Regions from separate parts of the Homo sapiens genome. Here regions 1, 3 and 4 are each linked to region 2. Evidence: fine-mapped expression QTL. A gene starts in region 2. Each other region holds a variant in brackets. All regions are shown on one strand. Distances are between the middles of the regions.

The links. PIP is the estimated chance that this variant, and not a neighbour inherited with it, causes the effect.
Region 1: its variant is fine-mapped to the expression of GCN1 in whole blood (TOPMed, PIP above 0.99).
Region 3: its variant is fine-mapped to the expression of GCN1 in unexposed skin (GTEx, PIP 0.93).
Region 4: its variant is fine-mapped to the expression of GCN1 in whole blood (INTERVAL, PIP 0.98).

Annotation. Positions count from the first base shown.
Region 1 is chr12:120,164,173-120,172,276 of GRCh38, reverse strand. GCN1 (GCN1 activator of EIF2AK4) reads left to right here. Exons shown (of 58, transcript NM_006836.2): 15 at 1,956-2,108; 16 at 3,977-4,069; 17 at 7,556-7,631; 18 at 7,782-7,941. Among named protein-coding and RNA genes, the nearest start is that of MIR4498, 13 kb to the right of the region's middle. RefSeq lists an enhancer at 5,296-5,345. The variant A/G (reference allele first, on the strand shown) is at 3,918.
Region 2 is chr12:120,190,800-120,198,903 of GRCh38, reverse strand. GCN1 (GCN1 activator of EIF2AK4) reads left to right here and starts at 4,189. Exons shown (of 58, transcript NM_006836.2): 1 at 4,189-4,224. The coding sequence starts at 4,207. RPLP0 (ribosomal protein lateral stalk subunit P0) reads left to right here. Exons shown (of 8, transcript NM_001002.4): 5 at 1-50; 6 at 165-350; 7 at 1,442-1,582; 8 at 1,970-2,205. The coding sequence ends at 2,131. RefSeq lists enhancers at 1-89, 209-708 and a silencer at 3,892-4,481.
Region 3 is chr12:119,900,112-119,908,215 of GRCh38, reverse strand. No RefSeq gene overlaps it. Among named protein-coding and RNA genes, the nearest start is that of CIT, 27 kb to the right of the region's middle. The variant C/T (reference allele first, on the strand shown) is at 3,786.
Region 4 is chr12:120,148,988-120,157,091 of GRCh38, reverse strand. GCN1 (GCN1 activator of EIF2AK4) reads left to right here. Exons shown (of 58, transcript NM_006836.2): 27 at 100-180; 28 at 488-631; 29 at 1,373-1,500; 30 at 1,662-1,851; 31 at 2,052-2,122; 32 at 3,183-3,348; 33 at 3,685-3,879; 34 at 5,701-5,947; 35 at 7,049-7,170; 36 at 7,372-7,486. It overlaps MIR4498 (microRNA 4498), which reads left to right and starts at 1,593; the gene lies at 1,593-1,658. The variant G/A (reference allele first, on the strand shown) is at 3,645.

The DNA of each region.
Region 1 (8,104 bases), 27 kb after region 2:
GTAGTGCTGATTGAAGTCATAGATTTTCCATGGGTAGAAATGTACGCTCAATACATTTTCAGCTGCCTTAGGGATATAGTGAACTCACATCCATGACTTAAAAACAGTCTATGAGGCAGGCGAGCTGGCTCACGCCTGTAATCCCAACACTTTGGGAGGCTGAGGTGGGAGGATTGCTTGAGCCCAGGAGTTTGAGACCAGCCTGGGCAACAAAGTGAGACCCCCATCTCTACAAAAAAATTAAAAAAATAGCTGGGCATGGTGGTACATGCCTGTGGTCCCAGCTACACAGGTGGCTGAGGCAGCGGGATTGCTTGAGCCCAGGAGTTCAAGATCAGGCAGGGAAACATAGCAAGACTCTGTCTCTACCAAAAATTATATAAAAAGTCTATGTACTATATATATCAGTTTGCATTATTGCTGCATTGAATGACCATCAGTTGTAGGTGGGACTTTGAATTGTAGATGGCAAAAACTTGGTTTTACCTAGTCTCTTCAGCTTGAGCTAGTTCTGCTCGTTGCATTTATTTTTAATTTATTTTTTAAAAAAGGAATGCAGAGTGCCAGAACTCAATGCTCATTGCTTTTAAAATAAACATAATATAAAATAAACCTTTTAAAAACAAAACGAAAATAAACCTCTGTAATAAAGATTTCTTGGATTCAAGTATAAAACATTATCTGGGAAACTGCTTTCATTGTGAAATGTTCTGATGTACCCATTTAGTAGCTATGGAAACATGGAACAACAAACCAAGGTGTTGGGGTAGGGGGGAAGAAAACATGTGCTTGAGCTATAGTTTTTTTTTTGAGATGGAGTTTCTCTCTGTCACCCAGGCTGTAGTGTAGTGGTGCGATCTCAGCTCACTGAAACCTCCGCCTCCTGGGTTTAAGCGATTCTCCAACCTCAGCCTCCTGAGTAGCTGGGATTACAGATGCCCACCACCATGCCTGGCTAATTTTTGTATTTTTTAATAGAGACAGGGTTTTGCCATGTTGGCCAGGCTGGTCTTGAACTCCTGACCTCGGGTGATCTGCTCGCCTCAGCCTCCCAGAGTGTTGGGATTATAGGCATGAGCCACCGTGCCCAGCCAAACTATAGTTTTAACTGGTTTCTCTTTTTTTTTTTTTTTTTGGAGATGGGGTCTCGTTCTGTCACCCAGGCTGGAGTGCAATGGCACAATCTCGGCTCACTGCAACCTCCGCCTCCTGGGTTCAAGCGATTCTCCTGCTGCAGCCTCCTGAGTAGCTGGGATTACAGGCGTGCACCACCCCACCCGGCTAAGACAGGGTTTCACCATATTGGTCAGGCTGGTCTGGAATTCCTGACCTCATGATCCCCCCCGCCTCAGCCTGCCAAAGTGCTGGGATTACAGGCATGAGCCACTGTGCTTGGCTTCCTTTTTTTTTTAAAAGAGTTTAGTTCAGAGGTCAGCAGATTTGGACCCAAATTTAGAATTTGGGTCCGAAGGTCATCTGTATGGGGGAAGAGTACCAGATGGGAATTGACAGGATTGAGGGTGGCTCTGACTTGCCTCAACTAGCCGTGTGACCTTGAGCAACACACCTAATGTCTCTGCTTATCCATCAATTGAATAACTGGACCACGCCCAGCTAATTTTGTATTTTTAATAGAGACGGGGTTTCTCCATGTTGGTCAGGCTGATCTCGAACTCCCAGCCTCAGGTGATCCACCCGCCTCGGCCTCCCAAAGTGCTGGGATTACAGACGTGAGCTACCGCACCTGGCCATAAGGATTATCTTTCTCCCTCTAATTTTGTGGCTGTAGAGTTTGATTTAAGTTTTGATTTCACTTCACTTCTTTTTGAGATATTTGAAAAATTAACTGAAGGGTTTTAGTCGTCTGGTTCACAGCTGGTTAGATAAATCCTTTCTCAGTCCTGTCATTTCCAAGGATCAGGATGTCCTTTAAGGTGCTTGTCCTCTCTCCACAGGTGACACGCTGTTGCAGGCCCTGGACTTACTGCCCTTGCTCATCCAGACAGTGGAGAAGGCAGCCTCCCAAAGCACTCAGGTTCCCACCATCACTGAAGGGGTTGCCGCAGCCTTGTTGCTCTTAAAGTTGTCAGTGGCTGACTCACAGGCTGGTATGAGTCCAGAGGTGTCTAGGATGGTAGAGACAGGGGCCTCTGACAAGAGTCCTTGGGAGGTGTGTCTTGATGTTCAGGATTAGCTTGGTCCTGACCACACTGGATCAGCCACAGGTTTGCTTGTCATCTGCAGGATGAACCTCATGGTTGCATGGGCAGTGGGAATGCAGTCAGGGGACTGTGTCACTGTCCTCCTTCATTCTGTTGCTCCAGTGCTACACAGGCTTGTAGATGATACCTAGATGGACCAGGGTTTAGTATTGGGACTGTTTGTTTCAGTTGGTTATACATTCATACAGTACAAAATTCAAAAGGATATAACATGAGAAGCTTCCCCTTAGCCCTGTCTTTTCCCGTAGCCGTTAAGTTTCCCTCTGTAAACGGTGTTACCAATTTTGCACTTTGGGAGGCCGAGGCAGGCGGATCACGAAGTCAAGATTTCGAGACCATTCTGGCCAACATGGTGAAACCCCGTCTTTACTAAAAGTACAAAAATTAGCTGGGTGTGGTGGCGCATGCCTGTAATCTCAGCTACTCGGGAGGCTGAGGCAGGAGAATCGCTTGAACCCAGGAGGCGTAGGTTGCAGTGAGCTGGGATTGCTCCACTGCACTCCAGCCTGGGTGGCACAGTGAGACTTTGTCTAAGAAAGAAAAAACAGTATTACCAATTTTATGTCCAGACATAGTGTGTTATGTAATTGAACATGCTGGGGAACATACGCTATATGCCATATTACTTATAATATATAATATATATACTATATATAATATATCTTCGAAATGATTCCAAATCAGTACATCAGAAAGAGCTTTCTCATTATTTTTTGTGGCTACATCGTATTTCAGGCTTTCTTTTCTTTTTTTTTTTTCTTTTTTTTTTTTTTTTTTTGAGACGGAGTTTCGCTCTGTCGCCCAGGCTGGAGTGCAGTGGCGCGATCTCGACTCACTGCAAGCTCCGCCTCCTGCCTCAGCCTTCCGAGTGGCTGGGACTACAGGCGCTACGCCGCCACGCGCGGCTAATTTTTTATATTTTTAGTAGAGACAGGGTTTCATCGTGTTAGCCAGGATGGTCTCAATCTCCTCACCTTGTGATCCACCCACCTCAGCCTCCCAATGTGCTGGGATTACAGGCGTGAGCCACTGCGCCCGGCCAGGCTTTCTTTATTTCATCTCCCAATCTCTGCACTGGGACACACCTGAACTTAACTCCTTTGGTTAGGAATGGAGCTCAGCTCTCCTCATGTAATATCGTGTGCTCACTGTGGCCATGCAAGGCACTGGGCTACCTGGGGGAATGCTAAGATGAACATGACCTTCTTCAGCAAATTTCAGGGTGCTTACTTCACAGTAGGCGCGAGGAAATACAGAAATATATCCGTAGCTTAAGACAAAATGCGGCATTAGAGCAGTTTTGAAGGAGAGATTGCTTTTAGTTGGGGGGGTGGGTATTGGGAAGGGCTTCATGGAGGAAGCATTTGAACTGGTACCCTGAAGCCTCTGAAGGATTTCATTATCCTGAAGGGATGGCCCAGTGTGAGTCCAAACAGCCCCAGTCAGGGAAGGGCAGGGAAAGCCAGAGTCTGTAAACCTCAGGTATTCCAGCTTGGCGCCTGGGGTGGATGGGAATTCCGGATGAGAAGCAGTTCACCTAGGATCCTGTAGGCAGCAGAGAGCCACCGAAGAGTTTCGTACAGGAGGTGATACCAGAAGGACTGAGGTCAGTTCCCCAAATGGAAGAGCACTGAGCCTCCTGCTGCAGAGGAGGGTTTGTCAGCAAAGCCCACCCCAGCAGCTTCAGGATGGAGT[A/G]GATCAGCTCTGGGGGATGTGGTGAGCTGCGTCGTGGGGTAACCTTTTGTTTCTTGCAGAGGCCAAACTGAGCAGTTTCTGGCAGTTGATTGTGGATGAGAAAAAGCAGGTTTTCACTTCTGAGAAATTCCTGGTCATGGCTTCAGAGGATGGTAAGTTACTCCATGCTTAGTTGAACTCGGGATTGAGGCAAAGTCTCTTTGGAAAATCTTCAGAGAGGACCCTTTCTTGACCAACCAGTCAGGTCTGCAAAAACCTGGGCCAGAGTGATCTGGCCAACAGCTTAGCTGTTGTGGGAATAAATTCATTCCTGTAGGGAACATAAGGTTAGGGAAATGGGACTTGGGAGATGTGTGGAGACAGAGCAGTAATGGCTGTGGAGCTACGACATGAGCTGTAATTATAGCTGATTGGGTAATTGGTGCTGTCTCGGAGGTTTTCTTGTGTTAAGGCAGCTGAGAAGCTCTTGTGGAGTCTGGCAGGCTCTACTCCCCCACCAAGAGACACAAAAACTACTGGTTTCTATCCTGGCAGAAAAGGAACAGTTGAATTTTAAATATGTGTTTAATATTCTACGTTGCCTTAGGAGTGTCTGCCACTAATTGGTGATTTGAAGAGTCGTTTGACTCATAAATCGCAACATCCCATTAATGAGCTACAACTGTTAGTCATTTCCTGGTTTTAGAAAAATTTTTAGCTAAATTTTGAAAAGGAAATAGACTAATGTAATTCAAAAATAGATACAAGAGGGTCTACATTGAAAATTATACCCCTGCTTTGATCTCTGGCTACCCAGTTCCTCGGCTATAGATAACCAATTTTATTAGCTTCTTCTGTAGCCTTGATATTTTATATATATGCAAGTAAATACCTGTATATGTTTGTTCTGTACCTTTTTTACACAAATGGTAGTGTGCCTGCCGTATGTACTGTGCTTTCTAGACCTGGAAATGAGTCCATATCAGTATATAATGAACTTCATCATTCTTTTTTTTTTTTTTTTTTTTGAGATGGAGTTTCGTTCTTATTGCTCAGGCTGGAGTGCAGTGGCATGATCTCAGCCCACCGCAACCTCTCCCCCTGGGTTCAAGCGGTTCTCTTGCCTCAGCCTCCTGAGTAGCTGGGATTACAGGCATGTGCCACTACCACCAGGCTAATTTTGTTTTTGTTTTTTTTTTTCTTAGTAGAGATGGGGTTTCTCCATGTTGGTCAGGCTGGTCTCGAACTCCCGACCTCAGGTGATCCACCTGCCTCGGCCTCCCAAAGTGCTGGGATTACAGGCATGAGCCACCATGCCCGGCCTCTTTTTATAACTCCATAGTAATTTGTTGTTGTTGTTGTTGTTGAGACAGGATCTCACTCTGTTGCCCAGGCTGGAGTGCAGTGACACAGTCATGGCTCACTGCAGCCTCGACCTCCCTGGTCTCAGGTGGTCCTCCCACCTCAGCTTCCTGAGTAGCTGGGACTACAGGTGCACACCACCACATCTGGCTAATTTTTGTATTTTTTTTTAAGAGACGGGGGTTTCACCATGTTGCCCAGGCTGACCTTGAACTCCTGGGCTTAAGCAATTCTCCTGCCTCAGCCTCCAAAAGTGTTGGTGTTACAGACATGAGCCATCGTGCCTGGCCTTAGTAATTTTTTTTTTTTTTTTTTGAGACAGAGTCTCGCTCTGTCGCCCAGGCTGGAGTGCAGTGGCGCGATCTCAGCTCACTGCAAGCTCCGCCTCCCGGGTTCACGCCATTCTCCTGCCTCAGCCTCCTGAGTAGCTGGGACTACAGGTGCATGCCGCCACGCCTGGCTAATTTTTTGTATTTTTAGAAGAGATGGGGTTTCACAGTGTTAGCCAGGCTGGTCTTGGTCTCCTGACCTCATGATCCGCCCACCTTGGCCTCCCAAAGTGCTGGGATTACATGCGTGAGCCACCGGATCAGGCATTTTTTTTTTTTTTTTTTTTTGAGACAGTCTCACTCTGTTGCCCAGGCTGGAGTGCAGTGGTGCAATCTCTGCTCATTGCAACCTCCACCTCCCGGGTTCAAGCAATTCTCCTGCCTCAGCCTCTTTGAGTAGCTGGGACTACAGGTGCACACCACCACACCTGGCTAATTTTTGTATTTTTAGTACAGACGGGGTTTTACTATGTTGGCCAGGCTGGTCTCGAACTCCTGACTTCAGGTGACCTGCCTGCTTTGGCCTCCCAGAGTGCTGGGATTACAGGCGTGAGCCACTGTGCCTGGCCGTAATTTTTAATTATTAAAAAAAAATAGGCTGGGGCCGGACACGGTGGCTCACGCCTGTAATCCCAGCACTTTGGGAGGCCGAGGCGGGCAGATCATGAGGTCGAGATCGAGACTATCCTGGCCAACATGGTGAAACCCTGTCTCTAATAAAAATACAAAAATAAGCTGGGCGTGGTAGCAGGTGCCTGTAATCCCAGCTACTCGGGAGGCTGAGGCAGGAGAATCTCTTGAACCCAAGAGGCGGAGGTTGCAGTAAGCCGAGATTGCACCATTGTATTCCAGCCTGGGTGACAGAGCAAGACTCCGTCTCAAAACAACAACAACAACAACGAAAACAAAATACATAGGCCTGGCATGGTGGCTCATGCCTGTAATCCTAGCACCTTGAGAGGCTGAAGTGGACTGATCACTTGAGGTCAGGAGTTCAGAATTATCCTGGCCAACATGGTGAAACCTCGTCTCTACTAAAAATAGAAAAAAAAAAATTAGCCAGGCTTGCTGGTGGGCTTCTGTAATCCCAGCTACTCAGGAGGCTGAGGCAGGAGAATTAGTTGAACCTGGGAGGCGGAGGGTGTAGTGAGCCAAGACTGCACCACTGCACTGTAGCCTGGGCAACATAGCGAGACTCTGTCTCAAAAAAAGTAAAAATAGGCTAGGTGCGGTGGCTCACGCCTGTAATCCTAGCACTTTGGGAGACCGAGGCAGGTGGATCACCTGTGGTCAGGAGTTCAAGTCCAACCTGGCCAACCTGGTGAAACCCCGTCTCTACTAAAAATACAAAATTTGGCCTGGTGCAGTGGCTCACGCCTGTAATCCCAACACTTAGGGAGGCTGAGGCAGGTGGATCACGAGGCCAGGAGATCGAGACCATCCTGGCTAACATGGTGAAACCCAGTCTCTACTAAAAAATATAAAAAAATTAGCGGGTGCCTGTCGTCCCAGCTACTCGAGAGGCCGAGGCAGGAGAATGGTGTGAACCTGGGAGGCGGAGCTTGCAGTAAGCCCTGAGATCGTGCCACTGCACTCCAGCCTGGGCGACAGAGCGTGACTGTCTCTCAAAAAAAAAAATATATATATATATATGTGTGTGTGTGTGTGTGTGTGTGTGTGTGTGTGTATATATGTGTATATATGTATATGTATATATATGTGTATATATGTGTATATGTGTGTATATTATATATAAAATAAATAAAAATAGTATATACTTTACTGATTCCAAAATACATGTGTGCATAAGCAAAAAAAAAAAAACAAGCTGTAATTTCACTTCGAGTGATAATCACATTTATATTTTGGTGTTAATTTTCAGTTCATTCCAGTTATTTCTGGGTATTGGTATGTATGTGTACACTTAACTATTTTAAAAACACTTCCATTCCTTTTCTTCCCTCCAAGCCCTGTGTACTGTGTTGCATCTGACAGAGAGACTTTTCCTTGACCACCCGCATAGACTCACTGGCAACAAAGTTCAGTACGTGAGGCTGGCTTACCTTTTCTTTTGGGCCAAATGAGGCAAAGGCTGGCAGGAACCCGAGAAAGGGTGTGTGGCAGGTGGAAGGGTTGGCTGTGGAAAGCCCTGCTCTTGGCCTTCCCCCAGACCTGTCTGTCCCTGTGCTTGCAGGCAGTACCACCGGGCTCTGGTGGCGGTGCTCCTGAGCCGCACCTGGCACGTCCGCAGGCAGGCTCAGCAGACAGTTCGGAAGCTGCTGTCCTCTCTTGGGGGCTTTAAGCTGGCGCACGGACTCTTGGAGGAGCTGAAGACTGTCCTCAGTTCTCACAAGGTGAGGGCATCTGGGCTCTAGAACTGGGGCTCTTGGATCCACTTAGCTGCCCCTGCTTACGATGTGGGGTTTTGGCTGGGCCACTCCCTGGGTGTTCTTTCTTAATCTGTGTGATGCCAGCATCTTCTGCTCTGCCGTCAAGCTCCAGTAACATCTTTCATAG
Region 2 (8,104 bases):
AGGCTTTAGGTATCACCACTAAAATCTCCAGGGGCACCATTGAAATCCTGGTGAGTGGACCTGGTTTGCCTGTGCTAACCAGGCAAATGGGGAGCTGCTTTTAGTGGCCATGGATCTGCTGGTTGTCCAACAGGTGTTTACTGCCCCACTATTATCTGGTTCAGAGTGATGTGCAGCTGATCAAGACTGGAGACAAAGTGGGAGCCAGCGAAGCCACGCTGCTGAACATGCTCAACATCTCCCCCTTCTCCTTTGGGCTGGTCATCCAGCAGGTGTTCGACAATGGCAGCATCTACAACCCTGAAGTGCTTGATATCACAGAGGAAACTCTGCATTCTCGCTTCCTGGAGGTATATGCTGTCAGCCTTGCCCCCTCTTACACTGATGGTTGAGAGCATGACAAGGTTCAGACTGAGTCCCTGTAACCAAGGACTGTGTTTTCATCTGTCTACCTACCTCATCTGTAAAATGTCAGTAACAACATAAGATTGTTGAAGGATTTTTTTTTTTTTTTTTTGGAGACAGAGTCTTGCTGTGTCGCCCAGGCTGGAGTGCAGTGGCACAATCTCCCGGCTCACTGCAAGCTCCGCCTCCGGGTTCACACCATTCTCCTGCCTCAGCCTCCTGAGTAGCTGGGACTACAGGCACCCGCCACTACGCCCGGCTAATTTTTTTGTATTTTTAGGTTTCACCGCGTTAGCCAGGATGGTGTCGATCTCCTGACCTCGTGATCCGCCCAACTCGGCCTCCCAAAGTGCTGGGATTACAGGCATGAGCCACCACGCCTGGCCAAAGGATTTAATGAATTAATGGATGTACAGTGCTGGGGCTGTTATTCTAGGGCCTGCATTGAGACTCACATTTTGCCATCAAAAGCCTTTTAAGAGGTGGAGGTTGCGGTGAGCTGACATGGTGCCACTGCACTCCGGCCTGAGTGACAGAGTGAGACTCTGTCTCACAAAAAAAATAATGCCCTTTAAATAATGAATAATAGTGATAGAAAATGTCATTTCTTGGACAAATGAAAAATTGAAATTAATGTATATAATTAGATATTATTAGCTACTCTTAGGTAGCTTCATTTGTTGAAAGTTTGACAAGTGAATGAAGTTCACATCTGGAAATCGTTGAACATTTTTCGTTCATGGAACTCAATGGCTACGTTAGTCGTTTATGCTTTTCACTGTTGTGGTAGGGGCTTTGGAAGTAAATGCCATCAACAATGGATACAGAAGACCTGGATTTGGAATAAGGGCAAAATTTATTTGATGGGGCTGAATTGCTCTGCCAGGAGCATTTGGTATGAGATGAAATGGCCTCTCTTGAGACTGAGCTGCCAACCTGGCAATTATTGTCTGCTAAGGGTTCTCTTTATTCACCCTTACTTGGACTTCCTTTCCTGTAGGGAATCTCACGTAAAATGAAATCTTCCCTCCCCCAGGGTGTCCGCAATGTTGCCAGTGTCTGTCTGCAGATTGGCTACCCAACTGTTGCATCAGTACCCCATTCTATCATCAACGGGTACAAACGAGTCCTGGCCTTGTCTGTGGAGACGGATTACACCTTCCCACTTGCTGAAAAGGTAAAAGGATCCCACCAGGACCACAGTGGGCCTGACTGTGACAAATTAGCAGGGTGATGTGGCCTTCTACCTTACTGCTTTTATAGTTGTATTTTATATAGCAGATAATTTTGTGAGGGGATATTTGAGAGGTTGGGAGGCAGGGAAGGCGTTTCTCACTTGAGAAATGACAAGAGACCCAAAGAGGGGGTTAATGGGCAAGAGCTGGGCCTTAGGAACCCTGCCTCACTAGGCCATACCCAAGCTGTCCTGCTTGGGCTGCTTCTGACAGGAAAGGCTTCACACGGACTTTGATATTGTTGGTCCTTAAACTCTACCAAGGCAGGAGGGTGGTGGGTAATAGAGGAGTGTGGATGACCATTTTGACCACTTCCCCCCTCCTTTCAGGTCAAGGCCTTCTTGGCTGATCCATCTGCCTTTGTGGCTGCTGCCCCTGTGGCTGCTGCCACCACAGCTGCTCCTGCTGCTGCTGCAGCCCCAGCTAAGGTTGAAGCCAAGGAAGAGTCGGAGGAGTCGGACGAGGATATGGGATTTGGTCTCTTTGACTAATCACCAAAAAGCAACCAACTTAGCCAGTTTTATTTGCAAAACAAGGAAATAAAGGCTTACTTCTTTAAAAAGTCTCTGGACTCTTAATTTTGTAATTTTTTTTCCTTTTTGACACAGGGTCTGGCTGTTGCCCAGGCTGGAGTGTGGTGGTGTAATCATAACTCACTGCACCCTTGAACTCCTGGGATCAAGGGATCCTCGTATCTCAGCCTCCCAAGTAGCTGGGACTACAGGCACACACCATGACACTCAGCTACTAATTTTTAAATTTTTTTTTTGTAGAGATATTGCACAAGCTGGTCTCAAATTCCTGGCCTCAAGGAATCCTGCCTCAGCCTCCCAAAGTGCTAGGATTACAGGCTTGAGCCACCATGTGCCTGGCCCTTAATTTTGAGGTTTATAGTGCCATATGCTAGAAACGAAAGCCATGGTAAAACCAGAGCTTTGTATTTAGGTGTTGATGTTTGGGTATCTAAATGAAGCTACCAATCAAACATCCTATACAGTTTTCTAGACACAGTTGTAACTATTACACTAGAATTACTGTTTCTATGGCTGCTGCATACTTGGAGTAGGTTTAGTGTCAGCTGAGATAGGCACCTGGTGGATGCTGGGGCCAGTCCCCTAGAGTAAAGTTTTTCAAACTGGGTGGTGCTCCAACTCGGTGGTAACCAATTTATATTTTCGAGATAGTCTCAAATATATTTGAGACTGGGGTGCAGTGGCTTGGACTTGGCTCACTGCAACCTCCGCCTCCTGGGTTCAAGTGATTCTCCTGCCTCAGCCTCCCAAGTAGCTGCAATTACCGGAGGCTGCCACCACACCGGGCTAATTTTTTTGTTGTTGAGACAGTCTCGTCCTGTCACCCAGACTGGAGTGCAATGGTATGGTCTCAGCTCACTGCAACCTCTGCCTCTCGGGTTCAAGCGGTTCTCCCACCTCAGCCTCCCCAGTAGCTGGGACTACAGGCATGTGCCACCACTCGGCTAATTTTTGTACTTTTAGTAGAGACGGGGTTTCACTATGTTGGCCAGGCTGGTCTGGAACTCCTGACCTTGTGATCTGCCCGCCCTGTCCTCCCGAAGCGCTGGAATTATACAAGGGTGAGCCACCGCACCCGGCCTTTTTTTTTTTTTTTTTTTTTTTTGGTATTTTTAGTAGAGACAAGGTTTTGTCATGTTGACCAGGCTGGTCTGGAAATCCTAACATCAGGTTGATCTACCCACCTCAGCCTCCCAAAGTGCTGGGATTACAGGCGTGAGCCACCATGCCTGGCCCCAGTATTTAAAGAGAAAGCAGCATCTGCTGAGAATAGGTGTTTTTGTTGTGATTCCTGTATTTCACTTAGAGATCTGTCTGCTGGAACATGATATATTCATTCTAACTAGGTCTGTGTCAAAGGTTTGAAAGCCACTGCTAACAGGGCTGACAACTAAGCTGTGGAGACCCTGTTCCCTAAATTGCAGCCACGTCTGCACGTAGCCTCTTGCCCTGTGGCCTTCAAAACTCCCAGCCTGGGGCGTCCAGCATTTCCCCAGGGCAGGGGCCTCGTTCAGTTCTGAACCTTCCCTGACCTCCGTATCCAGCCACGTTTGCTAACCCTGTACAAGTCATCCGCCAACTGAACTACAAACTGAGGACAAAAGACTAGTTCACCGACTCTTTTACCTAGTTTTTAGTTCCTGCTATCTAGGAAGCAACACTTGTTTTTCTAAAGAACTTAGTCATCACTCAGGAAAGGCCCACGTAGGGCTGGCCCTGCGGGCTGGAAGTGGGTCAGGGGCTGCAAGGCGGGCCCATAGCGTTACACCGCGGGCTCACCACGTTACAAGCGCTAGTCTCCCACGAGGCGCCCGGGGCTGAAGAGCGGGCCCTGGGGAGGAGGCCTTGTGGCTCGGGCGCGGGCCAACTTTAAGCCCGTGATCCGGCTGCCCGGGCTGCAGCGGCCGCCGTCCTGCCCGGGGGCACCAAGCCCGGGGCCCTGCCCCCGCTGGCTCCCGGCCTCGCCCTGCCGCGTGGGCCACGCTGTGACCCGGAAGCGTTCCGGAAGCGGTTCCGGAGTCAGCCCCGGCAGGATGGCGGCGGACACGCAGGTGAGGCGGGCGGCTGCGGGGCCAACGCGGCCAGGGACTGGGTGCGGACGGTGGCCGTCGGGCGGGGCCCCTCTCGCTCCTCGGCTTAGGGGCGTTGGAGGTGGTGGCTGTGGAGGTCGTAGTCTCGGGGCCGTCTCAGGCTGGACTCTCAGGGCTGCGGGCTTGGCCCGGCCCGGGCGGCGCAGGCAGACCGCGGGCTCGAGGAGTCCGGGGCTCCCGCCTCGACTTCAGCAGCTGGAGCTCGGCGGGGCCTTTGCCCGACCCCAGAGTTGCAGAAGTTCACTTTACCGAGCCTCTACTTCTTTTCTCCAAAGCCCTCCGGCTGTGAGCCCCGGGCCAACGCCAAGTCTTCCTTAAACTTTGTATTCAGCAAATATTCTTTGAGCACCTACTATGAGCAGGGACTTTGAGTGTAGTCTTTGGATTCATACAGATCTGGGCTTGAGTTCCTGCTCGTCGATTTCTGTGACATGCCAAACAAGTGACTTAACCCCGCCAAGTCTGCCTTTTCATCTATAAAATGAAGTTAAAACAATACTTATCTTAAAAGGTTGTTGTGAAGGTTCAGTGAGATAAAATACGGCTTGATATATGTTGGTTGTTATCAGATCCAGGGTTAGTGAAAAGAACTGTCCTGTCCAGGAAGAGTGTTACCTATGGGTACCTTGTAGTTCAGGAAGGACCTGGGAAAACCTTTTCCTCCACCCAGTTGTTATGTTTTAAGGTGAAAAGACATTGTCATGAGGCAGGGGAAGAACAGGTGTCTAAGGACAGCTGGGCTGATTTGGTGTCTCCAGGGTGATGGGATTGATTTTTATGTGTAGGCCCAGAAAATGACCACTTAAGCATTCAAAAAGACATTTACTGAGACTCCTATGCAGGTGGCTGATGTTCAAGTTATGTTGTACTGAATACTAGAAAGAAAAGCTTAGTATGAGAGGGTTAGGGGAATACATGCTGAATGTTTAACATTGATACTCACTTGAGGGAAAAATCTCTAGAGCTGCAATGTCCAGTATGGCAGCCACATGGCTTAAGTTTGTTAAAATTAAATTAAATAAAAAAATTCATTGTTTGGCTGGGCGTGGTGGCTCACCCTGTAATCCCAGCACTTTGGGAGGCCAAGGCGGGTGGATCAGTTGAGGTCAGGAGTTTGAGACTAGTCTGACCAACGTGGCAAAACCCCGTCTCTACTAAAAATGCAAAAAATTAACCGGGTATGGTGGCATGTCTGTAATTCCAGCTACTCAGGAGGCTGAGGCATGAGAATCGCTTGAACCTGGGAGGCAGAGGTTGCAGTGAGCTGAGATCGCACCACTGCGCTCCAGCCTGAGCAACAAGAGTGGGACTCTGTCTCAAAAAAAAAAAAAATTTAGTTCTTCACTTGTACCAGCCACATTTCAGTGCACAGTTAGCCACATGTAGCCAGTGGCTACCGTATTGGGTGGTGCAGGAGAATATTTCTGTATTTTATAATTTTTGTATTTTTAGTAGAGATGGGGTTTCTCCATGTTGGCCAGGCTGGTCTCGAATTCCTGACCTCAGGTGATCCTTCTGCCTTGGCCTCCCAAAGTGCTGGGATTACAGGCGTGAGCCACCGCACCTGGCCTGAAATTATTTTTTATTATTTTATTTTATTTTTTGAGACGGAGTTTCTCTCTTGTTGCCCAGGCTGGAGTGCAATGGCACGATCTGAACTCACTGCAACCTCTGCCTCCCAGGTTCAAGCAATTCTCCTGCCTCAGCTTCCCGAGTAGCTGGGATTACAGGCATGCGCCACCATGCCCGGCTAGTTTTTGTAGAGACAGGGTTTCACCATGTTGGGTAGGCTGGTCTCGAACTTCTGACCTCAAGCAATCTGTCCGCCTCTGTCTCCCAAAGTGCTGGGATTACAGGCGTGAACCACCATGCCCGGCCTTGTCTTCAGTATTCTTTTTTTTTTTTTTTCGAGACGGAGTCTCGCTCTGTCGCCCAGGCTAGAGTGCAGTGGCACAATCTTGGCTCACTACAACCTCTGCCTCCCGGGTTCAAGCGATTCTTCTGCCTCAGCCTCCCAAGTAGCTGGGATTACAGGCACCCGGCACCACGCCCAGCTAATTTTTTTTTTTGTATTTTTAGTAGAGACGCGGTTTCACCATGTTGGCCAGGATGGTCTCGATCTCCTGACCTTGTGATCTGCCTGCCTTGGCCTCCCAAAGTGCTGGGATTACAGGCGTGAGCCACTGCACCCAGCCTTGTCTTCAGTATTCTAAAGGAAAATGATTTCAACCTAGAATTCTGTATTTGGCCAGAACATTTTCATACTTGCAAGGAGTTTACAAAATGGAGGCTGTGCTTCACCCAAACACAAGAAAGTACATGTTCAGGGTGATAAACTGTGCCCCAGCTGTAGAGGATCACATGCCTAATTGGGGCAGGTCAGAAAACTCTGGGAGAGATTTCCTTAGGAAGGTGGAATTTGATGGAATACCTGATCTCCCTAAATGTACTGAGATTTAGACAAATGGCAAAAAGTTTGGGTTTTAATTATTTATAAGAACAGATAAAACAAGTCAAACTGAAGTGAGGTGGGAAAGGGTAATTATTAACACCAGGGGCATAAAAAAGCTGGGAAGAATCAGAGTTTATTAAATGGATGTTGAATGCCATTTACATATAATGTAATCACTGACTACTGACCTAGCCTGTATGTGAAACTGGGGACTTCCACTGGGGAAATGGGGAGGGTGTGCGATGGGGTCACAGCAGGAAAGGGAGCTGTGGTGGAAAGGTAGCAAAACTGAAAAATCAAGAAGCACATGCAAGTTACCTCCATATTTAGAGATACTTAGATATATGGAGGTAACTACCCAAATATCCACCAGATCAACCTAAGGGTTGCCCATGGAGAGTGAGGGCAAGGGACTGGTTTTTATGGCAGACTTCTCAGAACTCTTTGGTTTTGACTCTGTGTGCATCTATGACTATAAAAACAAAAGACATTTTAAAGTTAAAACTACATTATTTATGTAGAAGACAGTTTTGGACATCAGTTTCTTTTATTCATTGCCAATAGAATTATGGCAGGGATTTAAGCACGAAAAACTCAGCATTATTTTATTTCTGTGTGTACGCTTGACTCTTACGCTACTGATAAGGCCTGCCTTTGAAATACCCTCAAAAGAAAAACATGATAACCCCACTGTGTTAAGTTACATGAGCCTTATCATGCCCTGCTCTACGGCTTATGAATCCACAACCTGTCCACTTGGTAGCTTGTAGAATATTGCTCAAGAGCAGATTTTCAGGGATGTTTGCAAACTGCCCCCCATCACTGGGTCTTATGCTTATGTCCCTATGCAGGGGACTGCAGCTGTGGTAACTCGATGGCTGTTGAAAGCTAAAGATTTGTTAGCATCAGTTTATAGACCTGTTTGGTTTCAAAGTTAGTTTCAAAAACGCAGGTGCTGTGGCTCTCGACCCCACTCTGAGCAGTGACTTCCTCTCTTGGAGATGGTTTCTTCATCGCCTATAAAATGGGGATACTGATGCCTCCCTTGCAGGCTTTTTGGTAGTAGTAGCCAACTTTTTGCTTGGGATGAGAGTAGATGCACCTTATACGCAATCTCATTTAAGCTCCATAACAGTCATATGAGGTAGCTGCTATTGTCCGCATCTTATAGATGAGAAAACTGAAGATTGGGGGAGTGACATTATTTGACTAAGTTTCTACAGCTAGTAAAAGGCAGAGCTGGGATCCAATCTCCTAACCTTTCCCCCTTTAGCCAGTGTGCTTATCCTCTGCCAGTGAGTTGCCAGGATGCTGACATTCCCTTTATGGGGAGGTTAAAGTGAGATAATGTAAAGGGAACATAGTTGGCACGTACCAGGCCCTTGCTAG
Region 3 (8,104 bases), 290 kb after region 2:
TTCATTGCTGTTCTGTTATTTCCTGTTTAGCATGTGCTAGAATCTGCCCTACCATCTAAGGTTCACACATTTCTGCTTTTAAATTTTTAGAATTTATTTTGCCTTTTTTTTTTTGAGACAGGATCTCACCCTGTTGCCCAGGCTGGAGTGCAGTGGTGCGATCTCGGCTCACTGCAACCTCCCCCTCCAAGGTTCAAGCGATTCTCCTGCCTCAGCTCCCCGAGTAGCTGGGATTACAGACACCCACCAGCATGCCCGGCAAATTTTTGTATTTTTGGTAGAGATGGGGTTTCACCACGTTGGCCAGGCTGTTCTCGAACTCCTGACCTCAGGTGATTGACCTGCCTTGGCCTCCCAAAGTGCTGAGATCACAGGCATGAACCACCATGCCTGGCCTATTTAACTTTGTTTTTGTTTTACAGACAAGGTCTCGCTGTGTCACCCAGGCTGGAGTGCAGTGGCATGATCATAGCTCACTGCAGCCTTAAACTCCTGGGTTCATGCGCATGCGATCCTCCTGACTCAGCCTCATGAATACCTTAGACTACAGGTGTGTACCACTAGGCCTAGCTAATTAAAAAAATTTTTTTTTTTTTTTTGTAGAGATAGGGTCTTGCTGTGTTGCTCAAGGTGGTCTCAAACTCCCTGGCTCAAGTGATCCTCCCGCCTGGGCCCCCCAAAGCACTGGGATTACAGGTGTGAGCCACTGCAGCTGGTCCATGTTTTTATGCCATGAAATAATATATTCTTGAAGACCTCCATGATATAAGGTGCATGCCAAAGGAGTTTGATCCTTTTTCTTGCCTTTTGTCACAGAACAACTCTGGAGGAGGCAGCCAGGGCTCAAAAGCTGATAAAAAAGCTTCATGGACTCCATGGTCCAAAGAAAGAAGAAAATAACTGGAGTCCCCTCTTCTATTAAGAAGTAACCAAATAGGCTGGGCATGGTGGCTCATGCCTATAATTCTAGCATTTTGGGAGGCCGAGGCGGGCAGATCACTTGAGGTCAGGAGTTCAAGACCAGCCTGGCCAACATGGCGAAACCCCGTCTCTTCTAAAAATACAAAAAAATTAGCTGGGTGTGGTGGCATGCACCTGTAATCCCAGCTACTTGAGATGCTAGGCAGGAGAATCGCTTGAACCCAGGAGGTGGAGGTTACAGTGAGCCAAGATTGAGCCATTGCACACCAGCCTGGGCTACAGAGTGAGACTTAGTCTCAGAAAAAAAAAAAAGTAACCAAACTACTTCGCTATCCACAGCCTCACTCTATCCCATCCTGCATCCCAGCCTGTGTATTGGGGGAGGGAAGGTGTTAAACCGAACTGAGTTCTGCTCGCCTGGCACGGTAAGGCCAGATATCCACATGGAGGTTTGCAGCAGGAGAAGGGAAGGTATTTATATGCAGGGTGCCAAGCAAGGAGAATTGGGCAGCTAATGCTTACGTCCTGACCTCCCTGATGGTTTTTAAAAGCAGGGGTAAATTTTAAGAAAGCAGAGTTATAGGCAAAATTGTAAATCAATACATGGAGGGTACACCTTGGTTTTTGGCCTAAAAAGGCAGGATACCTTGAAGTGGGGCCCCCAGGTTATAGGTGGATTCAAAGATTTTCTGATTTGCAGTTGGTTAAGGAAGAGAAGCTTTGTTTAAAAATTTGGGGTCAGCAGAAAAGAACGTTAGCTCCTGGCTTCCTCCAGGCCCTTCAGGAACAAATTTAGAACAAAGAATGGTGGTCAGAGGTCGGTCATCAGTCTCCCCTCATCTGAGGTCTGTGCGCCCCTGGATGCCATTTGGTAGGGGTCTGGGTTTTTGAAAAACAACTTAGGGATGTATGTTTTTTTTACTTTTTTTTTTTCTGTTTTTGTTTTTGTTTTTTTGAGACAGGGTCTCACTCTGTCACGCAGGCTAGGGTGCAGTGGCGTGATCTTGGTTCACTGCAACCTCTGCCACCGGGGTTCAAGTGATTCTCCCACCTCAGCCTCCTGAGTAGCTGGGATTACAAGAGTGAGCCACCATGCCCGGCTAATTTTGTATTTTTAGTAGAGATGAGGTTTCACCATGTTGGCCAGGCTGGTCTCGAACTCCTGACCTCAGGTCATCCACTCTCCTCAGCCTCCCAAAGTGCTGGGATTACAAGCGTGAGCTAGAAGCTGTTCTTTGAGTTGGAGGGCACCTGGCAGAAGCGAGAACCAAAGGCATCTCATTCCTAGGGTGGCCAGAGTGGCTGCCTACTTGGGCTGCAGAATTGTCGATGGACTCTCTGGGCTCACGGTGTTTTTCTTGTCTGTTCTCATGCATTTATTCTTCCTGAAGAATTTCATTTTCAGTTCTCATGTCTCTGCCATACCTCTCCCTGAAACCCTGAAGTTGGAATTCTTTTTATTTTTGTTTTTGAGACAGAATCTTGCTCTATTGCCCAGGTTGGAGTGCAATGGTGCTATCTCCGTTCACTCTCTCTGCCTCTCAGGCTCAAGTGATTCTCCCACCTCAGCCACCCAAGTAGCTTGGACTACAGGCACGGACCACCACACCTGGCTAGTTTTTGTATTTTTTAGCAGAGATAGGGTTTCTTCATGTTGGCCAGGCTGGCCATGAACTCCTGACCTAAAGTGATCCACCCACCTTGGCCTCCCAAAGTGCTAGGATTACAGACATGAGCCACCACGTCCAGCCTGGAATTTTTTTTTTGAATTGCATTTCAATTTTTTCTTTTCTTTTCTTTTTTTTTTTTTTTTGAGATGGAGTCTCGCTCTGTCACCCAGGCTGGAGTGCAGTGGCATGATCTCAGCTCACTGCACCCTCTGCCTCCTTCAAGCAATTCTCCTGCCTCAGCCTCCTGCATAGCTGGGATTGTACGCACACGCCACCATGCCTGGCTAATTTTTGTATTTGTAGCAGAGACGGGGTTTCATCATGTTGGTCAGGCTGGTCTTGAACTCCTGACCTCGTGATCTGCCCGCCTGGGCCTCCCTAAGTGCTGGGATTACAGGCTTGAGCCACTGAGCCTGGCCATTTTTTTTTTTTTTAATTGAGATAGTGTCTCACTCTGTTGCCCAGGCTGGAGTGCAGTGGTACGATCTTGGCTCACTGCAACCTCCAGCTCCCGGGTTCAAGCGATTCTCATGCCTCCACCTCCTGAGTAGCTGGGACTACAGGCATGAGCTACCATGCCCAAGTAATTTTTGTATTTTTTAGTAGAGATGGGGTTTCTGCATGTTGGTCAGGCTGGTCTCGAACTCCTGACCCCAGGTGATCTGCCCACCTCAGCCTCCCAAAGTGCTGGGATTACAGGCATGAGCAACTATGCCTGCCCACATTTCAATTTGAATTACATTTTATTTTTTCCCACTTTATTGAGCCATAATTTACATACAATAAAATGCACCATTTTAGGGCTATATTTAGATGAGTTTTGACAAATGTATACGCCATGTCACCGCCAATGCAATTAAGCTATAGAACATTCTTGTTAGACCCCTGGAGATCCTTTTGCAATTAATCCTTACCTTCATCCCCAACTCTAGCTGCCGTCATTTTTTCCCCTCTCTAGAATTTTATATAAATGCAATCATACAGCATGTATTCTTTTGTTGTTTGTTGCTGTTGTTTTTTTGAGACAGAGTCTCACTTTGGTACTCAGGCTGGAGTGCAGTGGTGTGATCATAGCTTACTGCAACCTCAACCTCCCAGGCCCAAGGGATCCTCCTATCTCAGCCTCCCGAGTAGCTGGGACTACAAGTGCATGCCACCATGCCCAGCTAATTTTTATTTTATTTTTTGTAGATA[C/T]GGGGTCTCACAATATTGCCCATGCTAGTCTCAAACTCCTGGGCTCAAGCAATCCTCCTGCCTTGGCCTCCCAAAGTGGTGGGATTACAAGCATGAGCCACTGCCTTCGGTTTTGTGCTCTCTTCTGAATCTGGCTTCTTTCACTCAGCCTAATGGTTTTGAGATTCACTTATTTTCATTTATTGTATTGTTTGTATCAATAGTACATACCTTCTTTTTTTTTTTTTTTTTTTGAGACAGAGTCTCACTCTGTCACCCAGGCTGGAGTACAGTGGCACGATCTTAGCTCACTGCAATCTGCACCTCCAGGGTTTATGTGATTCTTCTGCCTCAGCCTCCTGAGTAGCTAGGATTACAGGCGTGCACCACCACGCCCAGCTAATTTTTGTATTTTTAGTAGAGATGGGGCTTCACCATGTTGGCCAGGCTGGTCTCGAACTCCTAATCTCGGGTGATCCGCCTGCCTTGGCCTCCCAAAGTGCTAGGATTACAGGCATGAGCCACCGTGCCTGGCCGCACATACCTTCTTAATGTTGAGTAGAACTGCACTGTATGGATACACCACCATTTATTTATTCTGCTTTTCCTTTTTATGTTAAATTGGGAAGAAAAGGAATCTTACAACATTGGCACTTCTTATTTAGGAACAGATCATCCCTGTCTTTTCTTACTCAGGCCTTGTTTGTAAGTCTGTAGTCAAGCTTTGCGGTTTTCTTTATGAACCCCTTGCCCTTTTCTTATTGTGTTGATTTCTAGGAACTGGATAGTTTGTTGTTACTGGAGGAGAATAATTTCTCTTTAACATTAGCTCAATGGTTGTTACTAGTGTAATGGAAAGCTATTGATTTTGTGTGTATGTGCATTCATCTTATATTGGGCTATCATTTGGAATGCCTGGTCTACAAGTGCACGCCACCCCACCTGGCTAATTCTTAATTTTTTTGTAGAGAAGGTGGGGTCGGGTAGATGGTCTCACTTTGTTGCACAGGCTGGTCTCCAACTCCTGGACTCAGGCAATCCTCCTGCCTCAGCCTTCCCGGGCTGTGATCTCCTTTTCTAAGAGTGATACTCCTTTTTCTTATACGTGTAATCTCTGAGGAAAGGGAGAAAAACGGGAGGCAGATGGTTGGGGTACAGGGGTAGAGAGACAGAGAGAGGAGGCGAAATGAGAAAGCTTGAACTCCTGATGTTGGGTGGGACAAGAATGAATTAAGTGGACTCCCTGGAGCTTAGCTGAGAGAAGGGTAATTGGAAAAGTCCAAGCAAGAGTCCATTTCCTATGTCAGAAAATTGTACAAGGTGTGGCCCTTTTCCTTTATTTCTAGTCTCTGCCCCAAGCATCAGAGGAGCTTTGAACGAAGGAGGGTGGGGCAAGCATGTGAGAGCAGACCACTCCCCACAGATCATTCTTTCCCCCCACTCCAAAGCTGGGCTTATCGGGGAGGGGAGTAGGAGATGATGCATCAGACACACTATCAGAGCCTTTGGGGCTGGGGCAATGGCTCATGCCTGTAATCCCAGCACTTTGGGAGGCCAAGGCAGGAGGATCGCTTGAACCCAGGAGTTCTAGATCAGCCTGGATAACAAAGGGAGATCCCACCTCTACAAAAAATATTTAAAAATTAGCTAGGAGTGGTGGCGTGTGCCTGTAGTCCCAGCTACTCGGGAGGCTGAGAGGAGAGAATTGTTTGAGCTTTGGGAGGTCGAGGCTGCAGTGAGCTGTGATCACACTGCTGCATTCCAACTTGGGCAACAGAGCAAGATCGTATCTCAAATAAAGGGGGTGGGGTGGGGGCACTTTGGGAAAGTTGAGGACATGAAAGCCACAGCGTTTGCTAGGGATGTCTCTTAAGGGTGGAAAAGGAAGGTTCCATAGAGAATGGTTGAAGGAAGAGACTGGAAAAATAATAAATTGGGGGTTTTTTTGGACATAATATTTAACCAGTTGCTTTTACAATGTCAACTGTATTTCTATCATCCCTGTTTTAGGAATGGTGCAATTAAGACCAGAGAAGACATTGTCATTTGGGGCGAAAGCCCATCTATCTCATCTTTGTAGAGACATCCCTCTCTGAGTCAGACTTGGATGTCGACTTTCATGGCACTGCCAGATCAGCAGCACCAGATAAAGCATATCAAGGACCTTGTTACTAAGACAGGCACTAGTGAAAATGGGGGCTGCCCCTGCAGCTACTCTATTGGGCCACTAGATAGCGCTTCTGCTTCGAGGAGGTAAAATGCTAAACCAAGCAATGGTGCTTTAGATGGTTTAAAGATAAGGAAGCAACTAACGGAAGTAATTTCCAGGGCAGGACTCTAAAAAGGCTATTTGGAAGAGAAGTACAGGTGCTCATTAGGTAGTGTGGAATGAATGTGATCTAGAAAATTGCTTACATTCCATAGGAAAAATTTACATTGCTAAACAAGGAAATTAAAAAGACACAATGAAATGCCACTTCATCCCTATTAGGATGGCTATTATATATAATATAATATAGATATTAAATGGAAAAATATATATTATTTATAATATATAAAATATATAATTTATAATATATTATTATATAATGTAATTATATTATATATTATTTATATTTATTGTTTTATATATATATAAAATGGAAAATAATTTAAGTGTTGGTTAGAGTGTGGAGAATTTGAAGCCCTGATTCGTTAGTGGTGGGAATTTCAAATGGTGCAGCCACTTTGAGAAACAGTTTGGTGGTTCTTCAAAAAGGAAACAGAAGTGACGTATGATCCACTCCTACGTATGTAAATATACCCCAAAGAATGGAAAGCAGGGACTCAGATATTTGTACACCAACATTCTTTCAGAAAACAGAAGCAACCCACGTGTTTATGAACAGATGAATGGATAAACAACATGTGGCATATACATGCAATGGAATATTATTCAGTCATACATGGAATGAAGTCCTAATACATGTTACAACATGGATGAACCTTGAAAACATGCTAAGCGAAATCAGCCAGGCACGAAGGGCTGCTGTATGATATCATTCCACTTATATGAGGTGCCTAAAATGGGCAAATTCATAGATACAGAAAGTAGAATAGAGGTTAAGAAAGCAGAGGCTGGGTGCGGTGGCTCACGACTGTAATCTCAGCACTTTGGGAGGCCGAGGCGGGCAGATCACTTGAGGTCAGGAGTTCGAGACCAGCCTGGCCAACATGGTGAAACCCTGTCTCTACTAAAAATACAAAAATTAGCCAGGGGTGCTGGTGCACGCCTATAATCCCAGCTACTTGGGAGGCTGAGGCAGGAGAATCACTTGAACCCAGGAGTTACAGGTTGCAGTGAGCCAAGATTGTGACATTGCACTCCATCCTGGGTGACAGAGTGAGAGGGAGACTCAGTTTAAAAAACAAACAAAAACAACAACAACAACAACAAAAAAACAGAAAGCAGAACGGATGTTGCCGAGGGAAAATGAAAAGATGTAGTTTAATAGGTACAGAGTTTGTTTGGGATGATGACAAAGTTCTGAAAATAGGCAGTGATCATGATTCATTGCACGTTATGAATGTACTTAATGCTACTGAACTGTATGCTAAAGAATAGTTAAATAGGCCAGGCACAGTGGCTCACGCCTGTAATCCCAGCACTTTGGGAGGCCGAGGCTGGCAGATCATCTGAAGTCAGAGTTCCAGACCAGCCTGGCAAAACTAATGTCTATACAAAAAATACAAAAATTAGCTGGGTGTGGTGGCGCCGGCCTGTAATCCCAGCCACTCGGGAGGCTGAGGCAGGAGAATCGCTTGAACCCGGGAGGCGGAGGTTGCAGTGAGCCGAGGTCGCGCCACTGCACTCCAGCCTGGGTGACAGAGCGAGACTCCGTCTCAAAAATAAAAGTAAAAAAATAAAGAATAGTTAAATGAAAAAATTATGCTGTGTATATTTTACCACAATAAAAATAAATAAATAGCTGGCCAACATGGTGAAACTCCGTCTCTACTGAAAAAAAAAATACAGGCCCGGCGCGGTGGCTCACGCCTGTAATCCCAGCACTTTGGGAGGCTGAGGCGGGTGGATCACGAGGTCAGGAGATCGAGACTATCCTGGCTAACATGGTGAAACCCCGTCTCTACTAAAAACACAAAAAATTAGGCCGGCACCTGTAGTCCCAGCTACTCAGGAGGCTGAGGCAGGAGAATGGGCGTGAACCTGGGAGGCGGAGCTTGCAGTGAGCCAAGATCGTGCCACTGCACTCCAGCCTGGGCGACAGAGAGAGACTCCGTCTCAAAACAAACAAACAAACAAAACAAACAAACAAAAAACAAAAGTTAGCCAGGTGTGG
Region 4 (8,104 bases), 42 kb after region 2:
GAATGTTCCCCCGTGGGTGAGAGGATGCCCTGCCGTTGGCCGCCTGGGTTACAGACCTCCCCACAGCCTCATCTCGACTTACCTGCCGTTCTCTCCTAGAATGGCCCGGAGTTGCTGCCTCGCGTGGCCATGCTGCGTCTTCTGACTTGGGTGATCGGGACGGGCTCGCCTCGCTTACAGGTGATGTGGTTTTCAGTTGGCTGTTGCTGTGACTCAGTTCGTGACCCAGACCTCAAGTCCCAGTGTAAAGGGTGGAGTCCTAGTTTCCTTTCAGCCCTTACTTTTGGACTTTGGTAGAAAGACTGCTTTAGAGAGCCAGCCTGACTGTTGTTAGCTAGTGAGGGGTTTTGCTTGGGTCCTGCCACTGGAGCTGGGGTCTTAGCCCTTGCAGTGCTGTAGGGGTGGGTGTTCTCAGTGCATATCCCTCTCTGGCCCCCTAGTAGTAAATGAGTTGCTGACTGAACCAGTGGATTGATGTTCTCCTTAGGTTCTGGCTTCAGACACCCTGACCACCCTGTGTGCCAGCAGCAGTGGTGATGATGGCTGTGCCTTTGCAGAGCAGGAGGAGGTGGACGTGCTGCTCTGTGCCTTGCAGTCCCCGTGTGCCAGCGTGCGGGAAACCGTGCTCCGGGTGTGTGCTCAGTCTCAGAGCCACTGCAGTGTCCCTTGTCACTCTATGCAAGTGCAAATTGCATGATGGGCATTTGAGAGAATGTCCCTCACTCTGGTGGGAGGCCTAGAGGCAAAGAGAAGAAGTCACATGGTTGGGGTCTCTCTGAGAATCAGAACACTAAGCAGTCATGATGTATCACTGTATTTTTTCCTTTACCTTGGAACACTTCACTTAATTTTTAAACTGGAATGTGGACCTTGGTACTTCCACGGACAGAGCTAACTTGCAGGAGGAGTTCAATTCTTTAGCCCACTGCCATGTACTTGGTTTTTCTTCATGGCTTTTGGACCAAAAACTGAAGCATCCCCTTGTAGTGGTAAGACAGTGGTTCCTACCTGCTGATCCACAGCCTCCTGCTATTGATATGTGACAGAGTTTTCACTGGCTTTTGGTAAAATGTGAAAATGATGACAATATAGTAAATTTTTCCTTAAAATTTTTTTGAACAAAAGGAATACGCTTTTTCTGAGGTTTTTATCTGTCTGGTTTATTTAACGTTTTAATTTTCACATTAAAAAAACATTTTACCACCTCACACTCTAAGGAACTTACTTAGAGTTAATTTTAATTGATTTAACTTTAGCCACATGCGGTTAGTGGCTACATCTTGGACAGTACAACCTAGAGAGAGGTGAGGAGGCAGGTCAGAGGCTCTTCTGAAAGATGATGCCTCACACGGTCCAATCCCACCCCTTCCAGGGGCTGATGGAACTCCACATGGTATTGCCAGCACCTGATACTGATGAGAAGAATGGCCTGAACCTTCTGCGGAGACTCTGGGTGGTCAAGTTTGACAAGGAGGAGGAGATCCGGAAGCTGGCTGAGAGGTGAGAGAGCCAGCATGTCGCTTTCTCCTGCTGCATCCTCTCTTCCTTTAGGAAATAACTGAACCCAGTGTGCTCAGCCTCCAGTGGGAAGAAGGGCTGGGCTGGCAGGGCAAGTGCTGCAGATCTTTGTCTAAGCAGCCCCTGCCTTGGATCTCCCACAGGCTCTGGTCAATGATGGGCCTAGACCTGCAGCCAGACCTCTGCTCCTTGCTGATTGACGACGTGATCTATCATGAGGCGGCTGTAAGGCAGGCAGGGGCCGAAGCCCTCTCCCAAGCAGTGGCACGTTACCAGCGGCAGGCGGCGGAGGTTATGGGCAGGCTCATGGAGATTTACCAGGAAAAGCTCTACGTGAGTGACCTGTGCAGCCCTGATGCAGTCTGGGTGTGTGCGGTTGGGTGGGTCTCTGCTCACCCCGCTACTGCTCCAGACAGGAATCTCGGGGCTCACGGTGGCTCAGGGTAGCTGCGGCTAGTTTCCTGCCTCACAATCCTGGTGCCCAGGTCATTGATCTGCCCGTTGCAAAGCATTTACCAACTTGTCTGTTGCAGCGGCCGCCCCCAGTGCTGGATGCTTTGGGACGAGTTATTTCAGAATCTCCTCCAGATCAGTGGGAAGCCAGGTATAACAATTGTTCAGCCTCGTTCTACTCCAAGCTTTGTGAGATGTGGCAGGTTGGCTGGGTGGGTGCTGTGAGGAGGCAGCATGGGTTAATGAAAGAGCAGGACCTCCCTCAGAGTCGGGGAGGCCTGAGTTCCATCAGCCCCTGGAAGGGGTGGGATTGGACCGTGTGAGGCACCATCTTTCAGAAGAGCCTCTGACCTGCCTCCTCACCTCTCTCTAGGCTGTACTGTCCAAGATGTAGCCACTAACCGCATGTGGCTAAAGTTAAATCAATTAAAATGAACTCTAAGTAAGTTCCTTAGAGTGTCCTCTCCTGCACTAGCTGCGTGACCGTGAGCGTGTTTCTCCTTTTCCCCAGGCCTCTGTTTCCTCATCTATATGCAGGGCACAATAACAGAAGCTACCAGCCTTTCTCCACAGAGCCCATGAGTAGCAGTTGGAGGATTAGACAGATGTCTGGGAGCAACTGGGACATTGAAAGACACTTGCCTCCCACAGAGCAGGCTCAAAACACGCAAGGGTGTTAGTTCTCTGAATGGCTCATCCTGGCCGTGTCCACTCCCGTGAGGCCTTGTGTGTCAGTGTAGGGTGGTGTATGGGCCCATCCTGGCTTATTTTTCATTCCAGACCATCAGCCAGGGATAGGACACAGATTCTTTGCTCCATGACTGGAAAGAGTAACAACACTTTGCCCTTGGAGAATGTGTTCACTTCCACAGGCCTCTACATCTGGTTCTTTTACCTCTGTGTTCTCTTACAACCTGCTTTGCAGGTAGAGGGGTGAGCATTGCACTCACATTCCTCTCTGGGGAAACCAACACAGGGCTGGTCACCCAGTAGGAGGTAAAATCAGGGCAGATGGCAAGTCTCCATATGACAAGTGGGTTGTTCCAGAACATTGGGTGAGCACTGGGTGGTGGGCTTCAGGCTGTTCTCTGCCCCCAAAACAGTGTTTGCCTCAGGCAAGCTCCCTCTCCTTGCCGTGCACCAGCAGAGGTTCCACTGGCAGAGGAGGCCCCCTGACTGCCCCTCCTGATGTGCTCCCACTTCTTTCCCAGGTGTGGCTTGGCGTTGGCCCTCAACAAGCTCTCCCAGTATTTGGACAGCTCTCAGGTGAAGCCACTCTTTCAGTTTTTTGTCCCTGATGCCCTCAATGACCGACACCCAGATGTCCGGAAGTGCATGTTGGATGCAGCCCTCGCAACGCTCAACACTCATGGGAAGGTAAGGGGGTCCCAGCCAGGGAACACCCACGGGAAGGTAAGGGGGTCCCAGCCCGCTAAGGAGACACGGGAGGCAGGCGCTAGGGCTGAGCAGGGGCCAGAAATGCTGAGTGCCAAGAGTCCTGGCAGAGCACTTTGAGCCAAAAAGACCATGATAGTGTGTTAAATTCTTTTAAGTCTGTGGCAGTCCTGCCAGAAAACTGGAAGAGCCACTGGCTGGCATGTCAGGATGCCTGTCCCAGAGCTAGACTTGGTCTTGGTCCTCAGGGCAGGGACTGTTGTCCCCAGATGCAGCCT[G/A]TAGGGTTGACCTGAGGCTCTGAGGGGTTTGGCTTTCCAGGAGAACGTCAACTCGCTGTTGCCAGTATTCGAGGAGTTCCTGAAGAACGCGCCCAATGATGCCAGCTATGATGCTGTGCGACAGAGTGTGGTGGTCCTGATGGGCTCTCTGGCCAAGCACCTGGACAAGAGTGACCCCAAAGTGAAGCCCATTGTTGCCAAGCTCATCGCTGCCCTCTCCACCCCCTCCCAGCAGGTACCTGCCATCTGGCCTGGGACCCACATGTCGGTTAGAGAATTGGGACCCGGCTGTGGTTAGGCGGTGGGATACTAGGGGTGGAGTTGGACAATCAGGGCCCTGAAAGCCCAGTTCTTGTTAAGGATTCACCCCCTCTCGCAGGGGAGAGCCTGGTTTATAGTCAGGAACACTCCTGGAGAGGGAGTTTCTTTGTTACTTTGTTCTAGTAGACCTCCCAGATAGTTTCATTTTTTTCTACTCACCTGGTTTATAGTGAAGAATGCCCCTGGAGAGGGAGTTTCTTTGTTACTTTGTTCTAATAGACCTCCTAGATAGTTCCATTTTTTCTATTCACTAACGTGCACTGGGAATCCAAAGGGAAAAAAAATAAAAGGTCAGGCTTTCTCTTATGTCAAGCCTTTTTCTGGCCCTCTACATGTGTTGGTTGTGTGTTACAGGTGCGTTTTAATGTAGCCTCTAAGCTACAGTGCAAATAAATTTCTTTTTCTTTGTTTTGAAAAACACGCATGTATGTATATATAAATATATATATATTTATATATATATATTTTGTGTGTGTGTGTGTGTGTGTGCGCGTGTGTGTGTGGTTTGCATTTTGGACCACTTAGAGTGTCTTCATAAAGTGAACAGTTGGGCTGGGCGTGGTGGCTCATGCCTATAATCCCAGTGCTTTAGGAGGCTACAGGTGCGTTTTAATGTAGCCTCTAAGCTACAGTGCAAATAAATTTCTTTTTCTTTGTTTTGAAAAACACGCATGTATATATATATAAATATATATATATTTATATATATATATTTTGTGTGTGTGTGTGTGTGTGTGCGCGTGTGTGTGTGGTTTGCATTTTGGACCACTTAGAGTGTCTTCATAAAGTGAACAGTTGGGCTGGGCGTGGTGGCTCATGCCTATAATCCCAGTGCTTTAGGAGGCTGAGGTGGGAGGATTGCTTAAGGCCAGTAGTTCGAGACCAGCCTGGGCAACATAGTGAGATCCTGTCTCTACAAAAACTTTAAAAATTAGCCAGAGGTGGAGGCCATGCCTGTGTTCCTAGCTACTCAGGAGACCGAGGCAATAGGATTGCTTGAGTCCAGGAATTCAAGGTTATAGTGAATTATGATTGTGCCACTGCACTGTAGCCTGGGTGACAGAGTAAGACCCTATTTCTAAAAACAAAAACAAAAAACAACAAAAAACTTTACCAAAAAAATGCACAGTTGAAAACCAGTTTCCAAAATTGTGGTCAAATATGGTGTCAGAAAGCCTAAGCAGCAAAAGAGTCGCACCTGGGCACCTGCCAGCATGGCCTCGGGGTTGCTGCTCCCAAGCTGGGCTTAGTGAGCTGCGGCTGGGAGGCAGGATTGAGTGTCTTTTGGTTCCACTCAATTTGTGCCTGGTCCTATAAGGCCCTGCCCAATTTCTCTGTGATTTTGACAAGTTTGGAAACAGAGACACGGGCTGTTTTTATGGAGGCAAAGCAGCACACTTCTCTGGAAGCTTTCTTTCTGAGTGGATTTAGTCTTTAGAGTCCCTTCCTTGGTCCCCTGCCCCACTGCCCAGGCCTAGGTTTTCCATTTAGACCAGAAATGGCACCATATGGGCCAAAGCTTTTGTCGTCAGCAGATTGTAGTGTGCACCCTCAGAGGTATACAACACTGTGTATACCTGTTTGCTTCTCTGGTGCCCTGTGACATCCGCAGGCAGTGGCTGAGATGGGGCTTGGGACATCTAGTGGTGGGTGCTGTGTAGAATGGTCAGACCCCCCACCAACCATGAAACGGCTGCAGCGGAGCCACAGCATTGACAGGTGGGCCCTTCCCCAGGTCCAGGAGTCCGTAGCCAGCTGCTTGCCACCCCTTGTGCCAGCCATCAAGGAGGATGCTGGAGGGATGATCCAGAGGCTTATGCAGCAGCTGCTGGAGTCAGACAAGTACGCAGAGCGCAAAGGGGCCGCCTATGGCCTGGCGGGCCTGGTGAAGGGCCTGGGCATCCTCTCGCTGAAGCAACAGGAGATGATGGCGGCACTGACTGATGCCATCCAAGATAAGAAGAACTTCCGCCGGCGAGAGGGTGAGCATCTCTGAGCTTGGGGCTGCCCAGCATGGGAAGTTGGTCCCCAGGTTGCCAGAGGAAGGAATCTGACCGTGGCGCCCCAGGTGGAGGCCGTTGCTTGTGCGTGTACTACAGAGGGCCCCGCTGTGTGCGACCCAGTCCAGCTGCGTCCTTGCTGCTTTCCTTGGACTTGCAAATTTTTTTTTCTTTTCTGTTTTTTTTTTTTGAGACGGAGTCTCGCTCTGTCGCCCAGGCTAGAGTGCAGTGGCGTGATCTTGGCTCACTGCAAGCTCAGCCTCCTGGGTTCATGCCATTCTCCTGCCTTAGCCTCCCAAGTAGCTGGGACCACAGGCGCCCGCCACCACGCCCGGCTAATTTTTTGTATTTTTAGTAGAGGCGGGGTTTCACCGTGTTAGCCAGGATGGTCTCGATCTCCTGACCTCGTGATCTGTCCGCCTCAGCCTCCCAAAGTGCTGGGATTACAGGCATGAACCACCGCGCCCGGCCACAAATTTCTAACTCAGCAACACCCTTAGCTGAGAGAGGTTTGGCTTTTCTTTCTTTCTTTCTTTCTTTTTTTTTTGAGATGGAGTCCCACTCTGTCTCCAGGCACAATCTCGGCTCACTGCAATCTTCACCTCCTGGGTTCAAGCAATTCTCCTACCTCAGCCACCCTAGTAGCTGGGGTTACAGGTGCCCACCACCATACCCAGCTAATTTTTGTATTTTTAGTAGAGACAGGGTTTCACCATGTTGGCCAAGATGGTCTCTATTTCCTGACCTCGTGATCTGCCTGCCTCAGCCTCCCAAAGTGTTGGGATTATGGGTGTGAGCCACCGCGCCCGGCCAAGGTTTGGCTTTTTTAACTGTTAGTGCCAAGAAGTGAAGGTGGCTCCCCTGTGCTGTCCTCCCTTTCGCTCAGCCACATTCCTTTGCTGGGGCTTCTTGAGCTGAGGCAGAGGGTGCTGCCTCCTCATGGGGCATCTACTAGTTCCACAGCTGTTTCTGAGTGTTTCCAGAGGGGTGGGAGGTGGCAGGGAGGTTGCTGTCCCTTCTGTTCTCTGTGGCTACCCCCAGGGGACATTCTCTTCCCAGCCGTCCCACCTTCTTTTCCCCTAGGAGCCCTCTTTGCCTTCGAGATGCTCTGCACCATGCTGGGGAAACTTTTTGAGCCGTATGTGGTTCACGTGCTGCCCCATCTGCTCCTGTGCTTTGGGGATGGAAACCAGTATGTGCGTGAGGTAAGTCCCCGGACTGCTCGGGAGAACAGCATGGAAACTTTATGAGATGTGTTCCCAGCTGTGTCTGCAGGCCTTGGCACAGGGTCTGACATAATAGAACCCCAGTAAGCGTTGGTTATAGGAGGAACGCTAGGACTGGTGTCAGGCCTTGCCCCTTGCTTGGGTGAGGAGGCCCCTGAATGTGTTTTCTCCCCCCTTGAGGCTGCAGATGACTGTGCCAAGGCTGTGATGAGCAACTTGAGTGCTCACGGGGTGAAGCTGGTGCTCCCCTCCTTACTGGCTGCCCTGGAGGAGGAATCGTGGCGGACCAAAGCTGGTAAGACCACTCGCTCTGCCTCTCTTCCCAGCTTCCTGTTATGAAAACCAGCCTCAGCAAGGATCCTGGGTAGCCACAGCTCTTGTCCTGTGAGCTCCCCAGACCAGGGATAGGGTTAAGACTCTGCCTTTTTAAAAATTTGAGATGGAGTCTTGCTCTATCACCCAGGCTGGTCTTTACCTTTGGGGCTCAAACCATTCTCACAGGAGCATGCCACTACACCTGGCTAATTTTTGTATTTTTTTTTGTAATGATGGAGTCTCGCTATGTTGCCCAGACTGGCCTTGAATTCCTGGGTTCAAGTGACCCTCCTGCCTTGGCCTCCCAAAGCACTGGGATTGCAGGTGTGAGTCACCACGCCTGGCCAGCTCTCCCTCTGGCAGTTGGATCTTTCTATAGTTTATGTGCTTTCATGCCAAGAAACAGGTCTCTGACAAGAGCCACAACCCTAAGTCAGGATATCCTAAAGCTCTAAAGCTCCTCTTTGGCTTTAAAGTTTTCCCCCCCCAGGAAAGCTCTTTTTGAAAATAACCTTAGGCAGGAGAATCTCTTGAGGGCAGGAATTTAGACCAGCCTGGGCAATATAGCAAGACCCTACCTCTACCAAAAAAAAAAAAA